Linked DNA regions of Homo sapiens: region 1 is linked to region 2. Evidence: fine-mapped QTL for protein levels in blood plasma. A gene starts in region 2. The other region holds a variant in brackets. All regions are shown on one strand. Distances are between the middles of the regions. Region 1 overlaps PLXNA4 (plexin A4). Region 2 holds the start of PLXNA4 (plexin A4).

Evidence for each region. PIP is the chance, under the fine-mapping model, that this variant and not a neighbour inherited with it causes the effect. Protein levels are from antibody-based Olink assays in UK Biobank. Linkage for the fine-mapping came from a reference panel and not from the study's own genotypes, which makes the PIPs less certain.
Region 1: its variant is fine-mapped to the plasma level of the PLXNA4 protein (UK Biobank, PIP above 0.99).

What each region holds. Positions count from the first base shown.
Region 1 is chr7:132,549,123-132,558,862 of GRCh38, reverse strand. All of the region lies in intron 1 of PLXNA4 (plexin A4), which reads left to right. Among named protein-coding and RNA genes, the nearest start is that of PLXNA4, 22 kb to the left of the region's middle. The variant C/A (reference allele first, on the strand shown) is at 5,611.
Region 2 is chr7:132,572,294-132,582,033 of GRCh38, reverse strand. PLXNA4 (plexin A4) reads left to right here and starts at 5,564. Exons shown (of 32, transcript NM_020911.2): 1 at 5,564-5,612. RefSeq lists a silencer at 1,062-1,231 and enhancers at 5,125-6,102, 6,103-7,080.

The DNA of each region.
Region 1 (9,740 bases), 23 kb after region 2:
CACCTTCTTATGTTTCATTTTAGAGACTACTTACTGACCTGGGGTATCAGATGTCCTCAAAGGGGCTGCTGGCTTTATGCTCGGATGAGAAGATCTAAGAAAGCAGGCAAAGGCGAAAGAGGCGGGGTACTGGCCATGTGCATGATGTCAAATTGGACAAAGAATCTTGGCTGTCATTGGCCCCAGGCCGATTGTTGGGGGTGTGGAGGAGAGAGAGTGAGCTTTGCTAAACCCAGGCCCAATTGCATGAAGTTGCTGTAGCTCATTTCACTCTCCTTTGTTCCTTCTCCCAGGACTTAATACTAGCAAGACCGAAGCCTTCTTGGCAAATACTTAAAAATAAACTAATTAAATAATTTTTCTAAACTGTATTTATATTTCTGGCAATCATTATTGAGTGAAATGGTATTTTATTTACATCTAGGATTTGTGGCAATGTAATAGAAGTTCTCTTGTTTTAATTTGATGATGCTCATTTTTGGAATGTTCTAAAGAGCCTTTATAAAAAAGCTTACAGAATATCACATGACCAAATATAGAAAATTTGCTTTGAAAAAATGTCATTTCTCCAGCACATACTGTTTTGAAAGAATGGCATTTTCACCTAAAACTTATATTTGAAAACTTAAAAATATTGGTAGGCATGGAACAGCATTTAACCAGGTAACAAATTTTACAAGTAGACTTAGCCACATGCCAGGTCTGGGCATTTTTGTGTGCAGACAGTAGTACACGTAGAGACTTTCTGAAAACTCAGCCTGCCAAGAATTTCCTGGTAATATATGATTTATTGGCTTGTATTTTCAGTATTTACATCTCATATTCCCACTTAATTGCAAGCTTCTTGAAAGCAGGCATTGTCTTAGACACATTTGCAGTTCCCTCTGGACCCAACATAAGGTTGTTTGATTGTCTCTCTCTCTCTCTCTCTCTCCCTACCTTAAACTTGGTTTTCTGAGCTTGAAAAGAGAAGTATTTGAATGGTAGGACAGTAGAGGGCATTACACATCCTGAAACAGCTGCGGATCTACAGGAAGTGGGAAGTAGCTTCCTGGCGAAGTCTGCAGGCAGTGATGTCCATGTCTTGGTGATTATTCTTCCATACAATTATCATTTTTCACCAGCTGATGGTAAACAGAGCACCTAATGAGTTGGTCTCTAGACCACAGACGTACCATATTGCTTGGTAGGCACAGAGGAGCTGCAGATAACATCTTTTTCAAAATGAAAACTCCATTAAACTTGGCTGACTTCCTGTTGTCTTTGGTCAAAAAGTCCAAAGGTTTTGCAAAGGTGAAAACTTTTTTTTTTTTAAAAAAAAGATAAATTAAAGGAAAATTCAAGGAAATAAAGAGATTTTTATTCAAGGGCTCCTTGGTAATTGATTGCCTATCTTTACGTCCCCCCCTGCCGCCATTTCCTCCATCTTCTGTGAAGAAAATCTTAAGTTGTAGGTTTTGATAAACTCTCCTGCCACCTCTTTTCTCTGAGCCAAACATCCTGGCTGTGCTGGCAAGTTGGGAGCCTTTGCAGGGGATGGGAACAACTCAACTTCAGTAGCACGTGATAGAGGGTTCCTTCTCTTTTAACTGCTTTGCACATTGATGGAGAGCTCATTGCTTCTCATGGTGCAGGTAGGTCTGACTCCACATCTAATTTTGTGACTGATCACAGGTGCAGGTCACCATCTGCAGGAGGTGTGGATAGCAAAGCCCAATGTCAAAATTCATTCATGTGGCAGGGTTTCTGGGCAGCCCCCATCCCACTGCTGGTTCGTAACCAGTGGGTCTCTAAGCTTCTCCCACCCTCATTATATGTGTGTCTTACACAAACTTCTGCCACCTGGTACTTTATTCATTAATATTTTTTGAAGCCTAAAATTTGAATTTATGTTTGTCACATTCAATTTCTTTTTGGGGTTCCAGTTTTGACCCTGTTTCAGGCTGCTAAGATAGTCTTAAACTTTGTTTCATCCTCATCAATGGGTTGAGTCTTACTCTACTATTAAATGACTTCTCTCATATTATCTCATTTGACCTTCACAAGTCCTGGAATCTGTCCGTTGCAAATTTGATAAATGTGACTCTCAGTCTTCATTCAACTTACGGATAAAAGTATGAAACAGCACAGCGCCAAGGACGGAACCCTTTGACATGGCATTTTCTGAAGAGCTTCCCTTTTGGGTTTGACAAATAACCATTGATTCACTTTCTTTAGGCTCCAGAAGCAGGGGAGCACCCAGGACCCAGGATAGACTTTGGAGGCAGACAGGTCTGGCACTGCAACCCAACTTAATGCCAACTTGGCCATGCCCAATGGGCAGATTATGTGGGGACTCATTTCCAGTGATTATAGGCAGGTGAGAGCTATGGGCCTTCTCCTCCACAACCTTCCTACAAAAGCAAGTTGCAGACTCAATTCTACCCTACCTACCAATATTTGTTAGTAACCAGGCACATAAATAGCCATACAGCCTGTTTTTGAAGCTCAGTGTGGATCCTGCTGTCTGCCTCAACTAGTGTGCCGGGGAAGGGTATCAAGGTTTGCTGATATAGCGGGTCACCTCAACCCTGCAGGTGGACAGCCAGAGGGCACGAGGGGCATGCAGCAGCAGAAGCTCCCTCTCTGGCCCCAGGGTGTGGTAAAAATATTATCACTTTCTGCAAGTGTCAGGAAGTGAGAAAGTTTGGGAGGCACTGACTTAGTAACTCTTACAAGTTTATTTCAAGGAAGATTTATTTGAGGCAGATGTGGCAATGTGGTTGCAGGTTTCAGCTCACCTTCTAGTGGGATTAGAGGACAGCATCCTTTGAGAGATGAAATAGACCCTAGTAGGACCCCTAGGCCAAGAATGGAGCCACAGAGGGCTCTAGGCTTGCCAGATTCTTGTGCCCAAAGGGCAGAGATGCCTGGATGGCATTTCTAACCAATTATGCATATTCGACACTGCTTAATTTCCTGCTGATAAATTGTTTCCAACATCTCTTATGTTTTTTAACAAACAGTGTAGACTCTGATGCAAGGCTTTCAAAGGCTAAGTCACCAGCCCTGGTTAGTTACAATACTTCAGATGTCGACTAACCATCCTTGGGTAAGGATTGGAACTAACTTACATTATACCACTCTGTTTAAGCTGATGCATTTTAAAGTAATTTACAGACATCATCAAGCCTTGGCTACTCAGCTGTGTGGCGTCAGCATGTTACCTGTCTTCTCTGAGGTTCAGTGTCCTTATCATTAAAAGAGTAAAATAAGGGACTGCTCTAACAATTAAGTGACATAATACGTGGGAAATAGCTTGCACACTGCTTGACACATATTAAATGCTCAATAAGTGGAGAGGTAATATTATTGAAAATTGTTGCCTGTTCTTCAGATTCCTAAAGCTTGTCAGTTCTGCTTCTTGCCACCCTGTGTTGGATTAAAACACTTCAGTTTTCTTGGTTTATAAATAGTCACATCTGTTTCTAACACTGGGCTTCAACAAGTCTACTGCCTTGAGGTTCTATAAGCAAATGGGAAGGGAAGAAGAGCAGGTGGCTGGTCCCATTGCATTAATTCTGGCTCTCTGTCAGAGTATGACCTCTTAAAAAAAGATTTAAAAATATTTGTAGGGATTCCTTTATTTTTGGAAGACTCAGAATTTTCTCAGAGTCTAGAATTAACAGCCACGTTTATATATTCAATCTGTGCTCAGATCAGCCATCCACATGTAAACATACGTTATTTTTATAGGACCTGGAGTGATATCTTAGATAATGTGGTTTTTTTGCCAGGCCATGGTGATGGTTACTGTTTTTTTTTTGTTTTTTTTTTTCCTTCAGGTTTACCACCCAAGACTCTGAATTTGGTGTAGGGAGAGCAGATAGGAGACTCTTGGCTCAAAGCAGTGGCTAACCATTAGTGAGTAATTATTGCCTGGAGCCTACCTGATAATTATGCCAAGCATTGCAGGATGGGGCATCTGCTAATGTTTGCCTGCAACGAAGTCAGAAAGCTGAAGTGGTCCATCAGAGACCAGAGAGGTGTGTTCAGTGTACATGGTGTTTGCATACTTGGATGTCCTCACTTGCCTCCAATAGGTGATATTTATGAACACTGCCCATCTCAGCTGTCTTCAGCCCCAGGCCCTGGTTTCCTGGAAAGATAGCCTTAAACTGGTGAGTAAGGGCCTCTGGGATTCTCCTGTGTAAAGCCAGCCAGCCAGTGAGAACCCTCTGCCCTGAGGCACCCTGGTTCAGAGCGTGCTCGATTCTTCCAGGCACCTTAGCTTTGAAATCAGTGAAATCTCTGCATGATGACAAACGATTAAGCTGGAAACATTGCATTATTCCCAGCAACACTCGGGCTGAGAGAGGAAAGAACCACTGGTTGACTGTGGAGAAAGGTGATTTGCCCCTGTGGAGAGGGAACAAAAGCTTGGAGACTCTGGAAACGGAGTGTGTCAGTGTATTTTGAAGGTGATGGGACATCTGTGAGCAGAGAGTCCGGCTCTGGTCTTGTGGAGGTGGTCTTTCCACCACATAGCACACCATGGGGAGATTTGCCATTGCTTCTCTGTCCCCTAAAGGAAAAGGGGCACCTCATTGTCACACTGTCCCCCCAGGGTCCTTGTCACTGCCATCCTCTACTCTTCAGCCCTTCTACAGTGACCACAGGCCCTGTGTTCACTAGAACAGCCTGTGTTTCAGATATTCTGTGCCATTGCTTGAGTGTGTGTCCTGATATTTTTGGTTTGAAAATAGTCATGTATCTATATCTATATCTATCTCCAAATGGGTATCCTTGGGCAAAATTGAGAAATAGTTGAATTTTGCCCCAAGTACTTGGGTATCTCCTCTCTATTTCTCTCTTTCTTTCTTTAGACAGGGCTTTTGGTGATATACACTGTAGTGTGTATACCTGTGAGCTGGGAGCAAATAAGGGCTGAAATTCTGCTCATGTTTTATTGGCCAAGGCTTGGTGTATCTCTTTGCTCAGGAAGAGTTGCCCTTTTCTTCCCCCAAGATGCCTTCTGTTTACCAAGTTCTGGTCAACCAGAGAGGACAGCACTCCCTAATTCTCAGCAAATAGCCATGTAGATCAGTGGGGACCCTGCTGTTTGCACCCTCTCCACTCTCTTCTGTTTATCCTTGGGCCACAGAAAAACAGAGGTGATGGAGGAGGTACACTAAGGTGTAGGTTGTTGAAAGAGAAAGCATGATGCTTGACCCAAAGAAACCATGTTCCAGTGGCAGACTTTTAGCACGTCAATGGAGGGAGTAAGATATGGACTGGTGCAGGGGTGCTTTGCTAGGACCTCTCAAACCAGATGGGAAGGTCCTATGTGTGGCCATTCTCTAGGTGCCTGTGCTTCAGATTGAGCTGGGGGACAGCTGTCTCTGGCCCCTCTTTTGCACTTAATTTTCATGTACCCTGTCAGGAAGCTCTCCCCCTGGGCTGATGACCATCACCCCTTGGCTTTTCTGATGGGTCTGGGGAACCTGGAGATCCTTCTGACTGTTATGAACCTCCTGGGGGCAAAATACCATTCGCAGTAATGTGGAAAATAGCCTAAGGGCTGCTGAGAGCTGCCTCCTGCCATGTCCCCACACTTCCTTTATGTGTGTC[C/A]TCCCTGTCATTCCAGGAAATGCTGACCTCAGGGTGAGCAGGTTGCAGGCCATGCCTGGGGCTGGCAGAAACATATCTCAGGACGCATCTGCAAGGCTTCTAGATCATCCATGTGTGGATGCCGTGCCAGAGCTAGGCATTCAGAGCAGCAGGTTTTCTGCCTGTGAGGTCCACCCAGAGATACTGGCTTTTCCAGCAACCAGAATTAGGAAGAACTTCAGTTTCATGGCATGGGAGCCCATAGCACCCCAGAATCCTGAGCCAAGCATTCTAACTGCTAACAAGCCAATCCCCTGCCTCCTGGCAGAATCACCCCTAAGAGGGCTTGTAATGGGCAGTACTGGCCCCAAGGCAAATTTTTTTTTTTGAGTTTCTTTTATCCTAACACAACTTCTACTTCAACTAGCATCACTGAGCTGGCTTTGGGGTGAGGGTCTCAGGCACCTAATTGATTTTATACAGAAAGGCATTTCTCCTGATATTAATCTTTAGGGAAATGAAAGTCCACTTTTCTTCTGTCCAGTGTTTTGTGGCCCAAAGGGGGTGTGTCTCCAGATGAAGAAAATGGAGTATCAGTGCTAATTTGAGATCCAGTGAGCAGCGGCTCGGGTAATCAGATACCACTTCAGCTGGAAACCTCACACTTGCAGAAGGACTTTTTATTCTCACCTTCCAGAGCCTTCTAGCTATGGGGTGTGCTACAGGAAATTGGGAGCTGATGAAGAAGCGGGCTGCCCCATTCCCACCCCCAGGGCTGCCTGTAGAGAATCCAGGCCCTTCATTTCCCAGTGCCTAGCATCTTGGGGCAAAGGTACTTCCAGCTACTGCTTGTGAACCAGAATTTTTGAAGGGGGGTAAGAGTAACAAAGAGCCCCAAACAAATAACTCCCCCTGTGACTTCTTTTTGACCAAGTGTTTGCTGAGAACTAAATCAACTCTCGTAAGTGTGTTCTTTCTTAGTGTTTTAAAACAAGGTCTAGGAGTCAGGGCTTTAGCACTGAGGTTCTGGGTAACTCTGCCAGCTGTGATCCTGGACACCATCTCTGAATGGCTTTTCCTGCCCCAATTAATGTCTTCCTTGCTCATCACATTAACTCTCACCGGGAGCTTTCCTGTCAAAGGAAGGAGGCGGAGCAAGCACTTAGCTTTCCATCTACTGTCAACTTCGGCTGCATCTTGGCTGCATGTGCAGCATTGATTTTACATGTCCCTCCTCAGCAAACCTGCTAATAAGATTCTTTTCCCTCCTCTCCTTCCCCCCACCCCCTTCAACCTGGCCCTGACTCCTGGTCAGACCTTGATTACATGTCTCATTGATTCCATTCAGCTATTTATTAATACACTAATTAGTATGTTCATTTAAAGGAGAGTGACACCGCTTTTTAAAAATAGATGTACAGAGGTGTAGGTTAATGGAAATCTCTGTTTATTTAACATCGATGTCTGGTGTGAAGAGGATTAGTTTTGGATGTTAAAAGGACACAGAGGTTTTTCCGGGGCTTAAATCACTTTAGCTGACAGTCACTAACACCCTTTGAAAGGTGACACCTAGAATCATATTTCATTTTCCTTCAGTGATCATAGACACTGCAATATTGGGGTGGGGAAACTAGAGGGCAATTGAGAGAGTACAGTACAGGGCTGGTGGTATTACGTCTTTTGCAGAGAGCTCTGATTGTGTATGGGGACTGGCTGGCCCTTGCAGCCTCCAGCGAGGTATACTCACTACTCTGGCTGTAGGACACGACCGGCATTTTGTAATGAAAGGTTTGTGAATGGAAAAGCATTGCTTTTCTATTATAGGTTTGTTCTTTTTGTTCTTGAGTTGCTCACTATTAATCATGGCTGGTTAATTCTGTAACAAACCACCACAGTTCAATATGGGTTAGTATGTGGGGGGATTTTGCTCCATACAGTCATTCAGGAGCCCAGGTTCCTTCCATGTTGTGGCTCCACCATCCTGTTAAGGGCTTCTCAATTTCCCACTGGCTCTTCTGTATCTGGTCAAGAGAGAAGGGAAGAGAAAATGTGTGAAGAAAGCTGCTGAGTGCTCTGGGGACCTGGGTGTGCACCTAAGCTCGCTGTCTCCAAGTTCGGCATGCCAGGACTGCACTTTGAGTGTTGGGGAATTGTCAGGAGGCTGCTGCTGTGGTCCAAGGGAGAAATGATGAGGACTGGGCCTGAGGTACTAAGTGGAAGGGAAGGCAGAGGCCCAGAAGTGGGTCTTGGTGAGAATTAGATGAGGCAGCTGAGGGGCACGGAGGACCGAGTGGGTGCTTGTGCTCTAGCAAAGGGAGAGAATGCAGGAGAAGGAAGAGGTGGGGCTTGTTTTTGAGGAGCTGGGTTTGAAGTGTCTATGGGACAGCATGGAGATATACTGGGTGTGTGAGTGGCCAGGAGGTCAGGGAGAGACCAGGATTAAGGTCTGCACTGCAATAAGTCCCAAATTGGATGAGGGACTATAGGTGCAGATGTGGTCATTGCAGCCCAGTGGGGTAGGAGGACTATTAGGGTCATCAGCAGCAGAGGAGCTGGACTCTTCCTTTCCTCCTCCCGCTGAGTCTGTCAGACAGAAGCCTTGAGGGAGGGGAGGACAGGGGAGGTTAATTGTGTATAGCAGACCTTGGTGCCTTGCAAATACAAAATAAAGTCATATTTTGGTTAAAACTCAAATTATGCTGATTTTTTAAATTAGCTGAGCTGTGCTCAGATCCTCTTTAAGTGTCTACTAATTGCCTCCTGCAGCTGAAGAAATGCTGACCCCTCCCTCTCATTGCTATTCTCCCTGTTAATCCTAGCCTGGAAGAGGTCCTTCCCCAGATTCCTTCCAGCACAAAGAGATCAGGCTGTATGTCTGAATACAACTTTTTTTGATGGATCAAGGGTAATAAAGGAAACACAGAGAGTAACTTAACACTTCTTCAAAAGGTAGCCACTGTAGGCATCTCCAGGCTTAGACCTGTCCTCACTTGTGGGTGCCTCATGCCCCACTCCTGGGCATCCTGCTCCCTAGAGGAAGGGCAGGCTCACCACCATGCTGTGGGGGTCAGGGGTACTCTGAGTTGCAATGAAGACCCACATTCCAGCCTTCATTGTCTTCCTAGGGAACGTTCACTTCCTTCAGGGTAAACCTTACCCTTGGGCAGCAGGTGGGGTATAGCCCTAGCCTTATAGAACCCACAGAACAGCCACAGCAGAACAAGGTTCCAACCCCAAAGTCTGGGTTGGTGCTCCAAACTGCAACTGGATCCTGGGCTCAGCCTCCACCTTCTTGTAAAGTGAGGATCTCACCCACCTGTGCTGTCTTCTTCTGCCTAATTTTCAAACTATAACTCTACCTCTCTCTACCTAATGTTCAAACTGTGGTTTGAATTATAACTTGTCTGCCCATCCACAAAAATAAGCTGAGCATTCTAAAGTCATTTTAAGAAAAAAATCCTAGCCCCCATGCTGCTCCCCAAACAAACAAACAAACAAACAACTCACCCCAAGGGAATATTAAAGATGTAGCAGTAACTTAACCCAAATAGCAATTGTCATGACTGCTGAGGAATCCTCCCTGCATTTGATGTACTTTGCCATTTTCCAGAACACTAAGGAGGGTAATGACTCAGGGAAATGACCCTCCCAGAAGCACGGAAATCTGCCCCCAGGAAGATTTTAGGGTCCACTCACTTTTAAGGTTTTTCCTGCATTGATGGTTCCAGCTTTCAAAAATCTTGGGAGGGCCCAAATGTGTCAGCATCACCAGGGTTGGGACCCAGGATTTTTTTTAAGTTCCCTAGGTGATTCTCATGAGTAGCCAAGTTTGGAATCACTTCCAATGTCTGAACTAAGTGGTTCAGTTCCTACCAAGACACCTCAAGGGTGTGAGTAGTTAATAAATATTTTGTACGAGGGGAAATTAGGTTCCCTGGGATTCCTGTTTTCTTAGGTGGGATGATGATAGGGGCCTTACCAGAAAAGCATCCTGATCCAGACCCCAACAGAGTTTTCTTGGACCTCACACAAGAAAAGAATTCAGGGCAAGTCCATAAAGTAAAGCAAACGCAAGTTTATTAAGAAAGTAAAGGAGTAAAAAAATGGCTACTCCATAGGCAGAGCAGCAGGATGAGCTGCTTGATGGAGTA
Region 2 (9,740 bases):
CTCTGGCCAGATCTGGGACTCTCTTCTTTCTGGCCAATGGAGTTAAGTCACACCCCCTCCCTCCCTCCATCTCCCCTTACCTCACAATATCCTCTAACTTCTGGTTTCTGCGGTTAAAAAGACAAGTTTTGTTTGTTTGTTTGTTTGTTGTTTTTGTTAGTTGAAAGAGAAGGAAGCATTCTGGAGAGGGGGCAGTGGATGAAAGGGTCTGGGGAGGAAGGGGAGTAAGACTTGGACCATGGGAGGCATGGGAGTTATTTTGGTGCCCAGAGGATCAAGATCCACAGTGTGTGTGTGTGTGTGTAGGAGGAGAGGGGTGTCCTCCCCACCTAAACACCAACCCCCCGGTGTGGCTTGGAAAGCCATGGCACGGCAGCAGAGCTTGCCATGTCCAGCAGTGCAGCCGGGTGGAGGTGCCCTTGCAGAGGGCAACCACAGAGCTGGCAATGCAGAGATGTCCTTCCATCAAATGGCTCATGGGCAGTGGATTTCCAAGAGGGTACTTGTGGTGAATGAAATGGTCAGACTTGTTCCTAAGCACACCCACCAGTGGCGGTCTCTGACATAATGGGAGGAGACAGGGAGGGGTTTTTCAGTGGTGGCCAAAGTTTTATCTGAGCAGAAAAGGCTGGGAGTTGAAATTCGGATGTTAATATCTCTGTGCTGATTTGCACCCACATGCTAGGGAAGCCTGGAACAGTTGGGTCTACTGAGAATACCCAGCCACCAAGTTCAACTTACTAGTAGGCCCTGTGGTGACACAAGGATGTTCCTCCCCTCATCTTCCTTGAAAGGCAGTCACTTCTCCTTTCTGTTTTACTGTTCCATGGTCCAGTCTTGAAGACAGAACCCTTGGCTTAGAGGTCCACTTAGTCCCTTAGGAGACAGATGGAAGAATAAGTTAGTTTGAATGGACTGAGAATCTTGAGAGCTGCTGCCCATCCCTCGAAATGGCAGCATTCAAGGAGGATGCAGATTAAAGGCTGCTGGAGTGTGCTGTGGACATGTGGTGACACATGCAGAAAGCAGGGGCCAGAGGGCACCCTGGCCTCACCTGTGTCACTGCGGAAGGCTCCTCTTGCCTCCTCTGCTGAGCTGTGGGATACTGATGATATTCCTGCTGTCCTGCAGGTGGCGCCACAATTTAGGTTTTTAAGCTGCTGACTGCCTGCCTGTGGTTTTTCTATCCAGTGCAAGGTACAAGACCCAGCCATGGGGGCAGCTCTTGGGGGAAAGAAAATGTCTCTCTAGCACCACCAGGCTCTGGTGATTTATTTAACGAGCAAATCTGGCTTTTATCAACTTAAATAGCAGCACTGTTCCTAGGCTAATAAAATGGTGGTAGCTAAGTGAGGGGAAACTTAAGAGTTTCTTCTCCTCTTTCCTATTAAACTGGTCCTTTTATTCAGCTGTGGGAGATGAACCAATACTTTTTCTGTCTAAACCCAGCAATAAACCCCAACCCAAGTCCCACAGACATAGCTTCTTTAGAAAACAGGACTCTCTGAAGCAATGTGCCATTTAGCTTCTCCCTCTTGTGGCCATGGGTCCAGACAATGACATAACCAGTTTCACGACCAGGCAAGAGGTAGAGGGAGTGACTCACAGAGCCATTGTCAGTAGGGGACACCTAGATGGTCCTACTTGTGTCTCCCTTAGCCCTCACCAAGGGAGAGGGGGTAGAGGAGGTGTGAGAGCCAGAAGATCTTGTACCTAATGCAGAAACACATTTTGAACTGTGGTAAGATGCTGCTTTTGCCTGTGTATTTATTCTTGGGGTGGGGACAAGATAGCAGAAGGCCTACCCTCATTGTATCATTCTATTTGAAAAAAATAAAAAGATACATTCATCTGGAAAGCGACTCTAATTCCCTACATGTGTTTTGTACCTACCTTAGAGTTTCAAAGCACATTAATAAGATGGTATGTCCTTTGAATGTCATTGCAACTCTAAGGGGCGAATGTGTCAGGTGAGAGATGAGGTATCATTGAGAGGACGTGACCCGCTCCAAATTGTAAAGCTGGCCAATGACAGAGCCAGGAGTAGGACATGTGTTTTCTAACTTCCAATGTAGAGGCCCTACTCATCCCACCCCATTCCATTCTCCTAACTTAAGGGAGTCAATCCAATGGGTCATCACTGAAAAAAAAAAATCCTCTACTGCAGCTAATTTGACCCTTTCTACTCCTCCTTCCGATAATATGATAACTGCCCCCTTTGGTATGCCTTTTACCGTGTTATTCAGTGGAAGGCAACCGGGGAAAGGCAATTTGAGATATGGCCCCTGGCCCCATTAACAACGGGAGAGCTCGCTGGGCCCCTCACCTGCCCGTGGCTGGTCCAGCTTTTTGCTGTGTGTCTTCCCTGTCATTTGGCTCTGTTATTACTCTTCAGGCACCACATGGCATTCATTTCTTTGAATGAAAATAAATGACACCACACACTAGGCAGGAGATAAAGAATAATAAACACATTTTATTTGCCACCTCTGGAAAAAAAAAAAAAAAAAGGTCTTTGACTTCCCGTCCATCCATCAGGAAATGGGCCTGGAACTCAAGCCATATTCACACACACACGCACACACACACACACACGCACACACACACAAATACAACCGATATGAGGAGGAAAAAGACAATCAGATTGTATTAAAAATACATGCTAGAATGACTGAGAATTGAGACAGAGTTGTTTTCTCACCTTCCCCCCTTCCTTTCAGCATTTTATGACATACCCTGAAAGCTGAGTGGCCAACAGAAGTTTGAAAGGAGTCTCCCCCGCGCCTTTAATTGAACGATATTCCTTAAGTAACCCATTAGGGACTTTCATGGGGCTATCCGGGCTGTCACTTCTGGAAATGGGCCGTGATGGACCCATGCAGCAATTTTAAAAGGGACACCTAGAAGCAGTGTCAGGATCAGGTGATGCAAACCTTACATGGACCTTGGGGTGACAGGGCCTCCTTGGATTTTGTATCCTCAGTGCCCGGCTGGCCTTGTGCTAATCCCAGTCTTGCAGAGAGAGGCATTTGGCCCTGGGCTTCCTCCACCCTGGAAGGATGTTCAAGAGGCAGTAGCATTGAGTGATTTTGTTATGTGTGTCTCTGGACTTCTGAAACTAACCTGATATTGTGTGCTTTATCTAGAGTCTGGGATTCAGGGTTTCTGGGAAGAGTGGAGTCAGATCAATGTATTCATGTAAGCTTAATAAGATAACTCCTTGCTGCTTTCTGGGCCATGCAAGACTCAGCAGAGAACCAGAGACTAAAAGGGCTCCACGCTGTCTCCTGGAATATCCTTTAACCAAAGAATCAAACATGTGGTTTCCTCCTCATTCTGGCTTGGTTCATCTTCTCATTGGTGAGAGCAAAGTTTCAGCAGGGTCCTCTCTGGGTGGGCCAAGCCTGACCTATATGTGCCGCTCACCTTGGGGCTTGTTTAAGCTGTCATCTCACAGCTCCTTTCAAAGGCTCCCCAATTCACACAACTTCGATTTCTGTGAGAATATAACCCCTATAGGGAGGTATAGGCATTTAAGCCATTATCAGTCATGTCCACCTAATAAGGAGGCTCTGAGATGTTTCGATGGGAGGGACAGTAATGGGCGGGAGTTTCTGGGTGTGAGGACAGTGAAAACTAAAGAAGGGACAGGAGAGAGGAGGCCAAGAGCCATGGGCTCCTTTAGAGGGTCGTCCTTGCTGGTTGCCTATCCCAGGGAATGCTTACTGGACTCTGCTGAAGGTGCCACTTCCCTCAGACTATGGTGGGAGCGGGTATGAGGATGAGGGTGGCATGCACAGAGTTGAGTTAACAGGTGTGGGAATCCCTTCGGTTTCTCTTGGTGGGTGGGCCCATTCCTAGGGGGATCTAGGCAGAGGTTTGGGAGGTAGTGCCACCCACTCCCCATCTTCACTGCCTAAACCAGAGCTACATGGTGATTTCTTTCTTTGGGCTTCAGAAACCACCCTGATGTTGGCATGGTCTGTTCTGGATGTAGTCTAGGATCTAGGGTTTCAGAGAAGAGAGGAGCCAGGAGAGCCGCTCAGTATAAACATGAATGGAAAAGTCAGGTTACCAAGCCAGCTCTGGGGCACTGGCCACTCATGTTCTCTCGTGCGGGCCTTGTGCCCTCAGTGTCCTCGGCCTCCTTGGGTGCCATGTGGGGGTGACTTGGTGGGGTGTTGGGAGGGGTTCTGACTAGCAATGGGTGTATGCCTCAGAGTCAGTGTGCGCTTGTGTCAGCTCTGAGCACCTGAGGGTCCCTCCGACGGCCAGCGCCCAGAGCTGCAAATTCCGAGGCGGCTGAGCGCCTCCCTCTGAGCGCGCGCCGTGCGCTCCGGTCACCCATGTATGCCCCTCTCTCCGCCCCACATCGCCACCGCCAGGGTAGCTCCGTGCGGGCCGAGGGGACCCAGGGGGGTGTCGGCAAACGTTGGTGCGGAGGAGAGCCGGCAAGCCGGGCGGCGGCGGGTGGGAGCATGTAGGGAGGCGCCCCCTGCCCCCTCTGCCGGCCGCTCTCCCTCGCTCTAGATGTCAGCCGCGAGCTCCGAGCCAGCGAGAGCGAGCCAGAGAGGGAGCGGCGGCGGGCGGCGGGCGGCAGGGAGGAGAGGAGGCGAGGCGAGGGAGGGAGGAAGGGAAGCAGGGAGGGCGGGAGGGAGGAGAGGAGGACCCAGAGAGCGCCAGGCAGCTGGAGTTTTTGCAGCGCTTGGCCGGGCTTCAATGCACAGCAGCAGCGAGCCGCGGCGGCAGCAGGCAGCCCGGGAGCTCCGGCGGCGGCCGAGCCAGCGGCGGCCCCGCTCCCTGCCCCCTGCAAACTTTGCGAGCAGCCCGCCCGGGGGGCCGGGGGCGCGCCCGGGAGGCCCGGCTCGGCCCGCGGCCGAGCTCTCCGCCGCCGCAGCGCCAGCCGCCGCAGCCACCACCGCCGCAGCCCCGCGCCTCCCCGGGGAGCAGCCGGCGGCTCCCGCGGCCCCCCAGCCCCGGCCCCAGGGCACTGCCCGGCGAGTGTCTCGGCAAGGGTGGGGGCTGCCGCGGCGCGGCCGGCCGCGGGCTGCCGGGGGGCGGCCGCCGCTACCCAGAGAGGCGCGCAGAGGCGCCGAGAGCGCTCCCCGGCGGGTCCCCCGCGCACTCGCCGCGCCCGGGCAGCGGCCCGACCGGGCGAGCATGGGCGGCGCGGAGTGACGCCGCTGTGCCCGCTTGGCATCAAGGACATTCAGCCCGCGGGGGTGGGGACGAAGGGGGGCAGCCCGGCGTCGCCACCGCAGCCCCCGAGAGCCGCCGCCGCTGCTCGGGCTCCGGGGCTGGGTGGAGGAAAGGGGTGTTCGGAATCGATCCCCATTTTCCGACCTTTTTGTTGGACATTACGCCCACCTTGGACGCCGCAAGAGAAGCTGTCAAGCCCCGCAGGCTCTGATTCGGCGCCCTCCGCGTTCCTCGGCTGCTCCCGGCTTCCCTGTGCCTCGGTGGAGTATTTGCGTTCGGGGCTGGGGCTGGAGGAGGCAGCCACACGCGCGCACACGCACACGTTCAGAGGAGGGCGAGAGGCAGCGGCATAGGCTCCATCTGCAGTGTCAATGCGGCGCTCCCGCTGAAGGAGGGAAACGCGGCGCGTCCAGGTAAGGAGCCGGCCCGCCGGGGAGTGGGGCCGGGCGGGCGGCGAGGGCAGCAAGGTCGGACAGACCTGGGCCGACCCGGGAGTCCTCAGTGTCCCGGAGCCAGCCCGCGGCACACGCACACGCACACACGCAGGCACACACACAGATCCACACCGGCACACACGGCGCTCGCGCACCTGCCCACGTCCCACCTGGACGCCCGCGGAGGTGCAGCGGCCGGAGCAGGGATTTCCCGGGTGTGTTCTCCTCTCACGCTCCTGGACTCAGACTTCTCTTTCCCGGGACTTTCGGGGTGGGATTCTGTGTATTCCCGGCTCTGCCTCCCACCCGGGGAGGTTGAGGGAGCAATTTTTCAGCTCCCAGCCCCTTTCGTCCCTAGCTGGGCTTTAAAATGGGAGAAGTCCTGAGAGGTTTCCGGAGACCTACCCAGTGTCATCGCGGCCCCGTGGCCTTTGGACACCCTGGGATTTCAACGGGAGACAGACCCACAGATATTCGGACGCATATTTGGAGAGAGTGGTGGCCCAGCGCCCGGGGAGGAGGCCAGATAGGCGGTTGGGGCTGCAGTTCTGTAGGGCGGCGCATATGAAACAGACACTGCGTTTCCCCAGTAAGAGGCAGCACAAACGCCTTTCTGAAGCGTGGCACTGCTTCCCCGGGAATGCGCCGAGATTTCAGGCAGAAAGCGGCTTAAAGCATCGCCGCGTATGTTGCTTGTCTAGGGAAGGTACGGGGGTCAGATCCTCCTTAAAAGGTAAGACCTTATTCACAGCCTCAGTGCCTGCTTAGCAGCAAGCAGACAGGACTTGGAGACACAGGACTTGGGTCCCCTCTCACCTCCCTACCCTCCCTGGGCACATGGGGCTGCCTTCCCCGGTGCCTCCGGCTGGCGAACACCTGTCACATGCCTTTCGTGGTGTGTGTCTGAGAAAGAGAACTAGAAGGGGGAAGCACGAGGGATATAGTCCTCCAAAAGAGGAGGCTCCCCTCCCTCACGACCGTGGCGGCACTGCCCACCGGAGAAGGCAAGGCATTCGTGGGTCTGCCAGCGTCCCCCAGAGCCCAAGCCTGCTCCGATTGTAGAATCACTCCCCAGACGCCCGTGCTTTAAGGTCCTATTTCCCGAAAGCATTTTCATTCTTGTTCTCTCTGGCTGGAATTTCACAGGCTGCTCATTTTAACTTTTTCTGGAGGAGGTAGGAAGTGGCTGGGGTTCTAAGAGGCTTTTCCATAGTTCCCTTCTTGGGGTCTAAGAGCAACTAATTTAGGGTCTCAGTTGTCATAGGGAGAAGAACATGAGATCCAAATCAAATTCGGAATTGAATATATATGTACAAGCTCCTGTGTTTCTGGTGCTGTCACTTTGAGGTAGCTTTCTAGGCAACATGATCATATCATTTTCCCACAAAACTGAATAAGCTTGTACCCTCTGTCCAAGATCATGTGTTCAGAGTATCCCACAGACCCACCAGTGGAAAAAATATGTTAGGAGCCTTACAGAACATGATGGAAGAGGAGCAAACATTCTTTTGAACAAGGAGGCCTCAGTGCTAGGCTCAGAATTTGGGTTGTTTTTGTAAATCCTGAAGATAGGGGCTGAATGAAAGGGCTTTTTCAGCACCCTGACTCCGCTATTTCCAAACTTTTTTCAGCTCCTGCAAAGGTCTCTGGCTAGGCTGGGGAGAAGCGCAGACACCCCGGGAGGGAGATTGTATTCCCGCTGTGTGCTGTGTGAGCTGCCCTTTGATTGATTGAAAAGCATAGATGGAATAAAGCAAATCTCTCACAATGGAGAGACCCCAGTAGGGGGAAGAAACCTTATTTGCTTTTTAAGAATGGTGGGCGTGTGCACACACACACCCAATATATATACACACATGCGTTCTCAGAGTCTGGCTAAATGTGGTCAGCTCCCCGCCCCCGCCATGTGTGACAATGGGGTCCACCTCTGTCTTCCGGGCTGTGGAAGAAATGGAACATTTCTCCCCACATGCCCCTTGAGGGCGTGGACAGGCAGATCCCACCTACGCGTACAGCAGCACATGGTTTGCAAAAGAAATAATGAGCTCCAGCAACAGTGGGTGCCTCCCAGGTAAACAGTCCCTCATGGGACCTGGAAGAGGCAAAGGGATAGGGTACAGGATCTTCCTGAAATGTCTGTGTCTTCCCTGTAGACCTCCACTCCTTTCTCTGCTTTCCTCCCTACCCTCTTTCCTTTCTCATGTATTCGCAGCCTCAGGATCCATCATTTTAATGCAAAGCTAGTATCATTATGCTGGTTATAAGCTAAACATCTGGGTTCAGAAAATCTCTGCACTTTCTGCACTTAGCATTAGGTACCAATTTGGTTTCTAGGACAAGGCAGGCATTAATTAACATCTCTGTAAAGCGGAGTATACATTACGTTTTCCTGGCTCTCTTGCCCAGCCCTGGAGCATGCCACGCTGTCATTCACCCTCTCTGCCACTCTTCTGTGCCCTTCCTTTTAAGTTCTCTGAGGTCTTTCTCACTGGGAAGGGAGTCACACTAGAAAAACCCCAGCCATGAATGCTTCTTTTCAGCAGACCCTCGCTGCCTGGTAGACGGTGCTTAAGGCAGCTCTCCTGTGAGCACTAGGCATGGGTCACCTACAAGCTGCTCCTTCTTACCCAATCACGCCTCCCCGGGCTCTCATCTGTCCTCCCAGGACTTCCTCCTGGATGCCCACTGGGACACTGCAGACATTTCTGGAGGACTCCAAGGCAGTCAACTTGTTTCCTTTCTCCTTCTCTGTGCCTTCCTGTCGCCTGCTGCTGCTACTCCCTGCAGACAGGGAAATCTGCACGGCAGAGTCTGCCTACATACACTTGGCCTCGGGATCCTTTTCATCACAATGAGGGCTGCTGGGAATGAAGTGGGGGCTTTCTAGGATGGCAGCAGTCCCGAAGTGGGAGAGAGCTAAAGGGGCTGGGTCATTAACCACTCTTGATTCATAGTTATCATCAGGCTTTGATGCAGAGAAATCGCTGTGGATCTCTCTCCTCCTAGCCAGCTAGGGGGCATTTCTTAGCTGCTTCTCCCCATCCTCACCTAGAGAAGGCATACGCAGACAATGCACATCAGAGACCTGTTGGAGCGGCTCTGTGGTGGGTTACAAGGGGGCGGCAGCAATACAGAAAACACGACCATGATCTTGGCTCTCATTAGACTATGCAACAGATGTGCCAGCGTCTCCTCTCTTCTTATTTGTGTCCAGTGCTACCCAATGTGAAACTGGCTCAGACCCTGGGCTATTGAGTAGGTTCATTTCCCTCCCTTGACACCTCCCTTCCTTTTCCTCCAACCCCCACTTCTCTGCCCCCACCACTTGCTAATCTACCTCTTGGCTTTGTGCGCACATCCGCCAGCCCATTCGCCCTCAAATTTGCGGCACTCCAAGAAATCAATATAACATGAATTTAACGACAGCTGGATGATTAAGTGTTATTTATATTTAAAAGCGGCATTTTAAAAAGACGTCTCACTAATAAATGGCTGTTTGGGAGATGCACATGATTAGGGTAATTGGCCTATAGGCTCTATCGAGCTATGCTTGGTCCACACAGGGCCCTGTGGACAGGACACTGTCTCTTTAAAAGCTGCAAGCTCCACTGCTCCCTCCCCAGACTCCCACCTGATCCCCTCTAGCTGCACAGACTTTTTCTTTCTTCTTTCATGTTGTCCTCACTGCCCAGGCTGTACCATTCAAGTTGCGGTAGGAAGGTGGAGCCCACAGGGAGACTGAAGGGGGCTCTGCTGCTGAGTGGTAAGAGATGGATTTTAAAACGAAAGGCAGGCAGGGGTCCTGATTCCCCTGGAACAAGAGCCCAGGCCTTGTTCCTGAAGGAGGAGGCTGCTTCCCTGCATGGCATGGAGCAGCCTGGAAGAAGAGTTTCCTGAGTCCCTATGTGAGTCTGTGTATGCCCCCACACACTTGTCCGGTCCTGTGGCATCAGCCTCCCAAAGGAAGAGGCTGTGAGGATGTTAGTACTGGCTTCAGTTCTTGTAAAAACAATGGAATGGAAGATGATAATTAATGATGATGGTGGCCAATATTTATTGAGCACTCATTTGGTTTAGATACCATTTAAGTAGTTTGCCTCATAACAA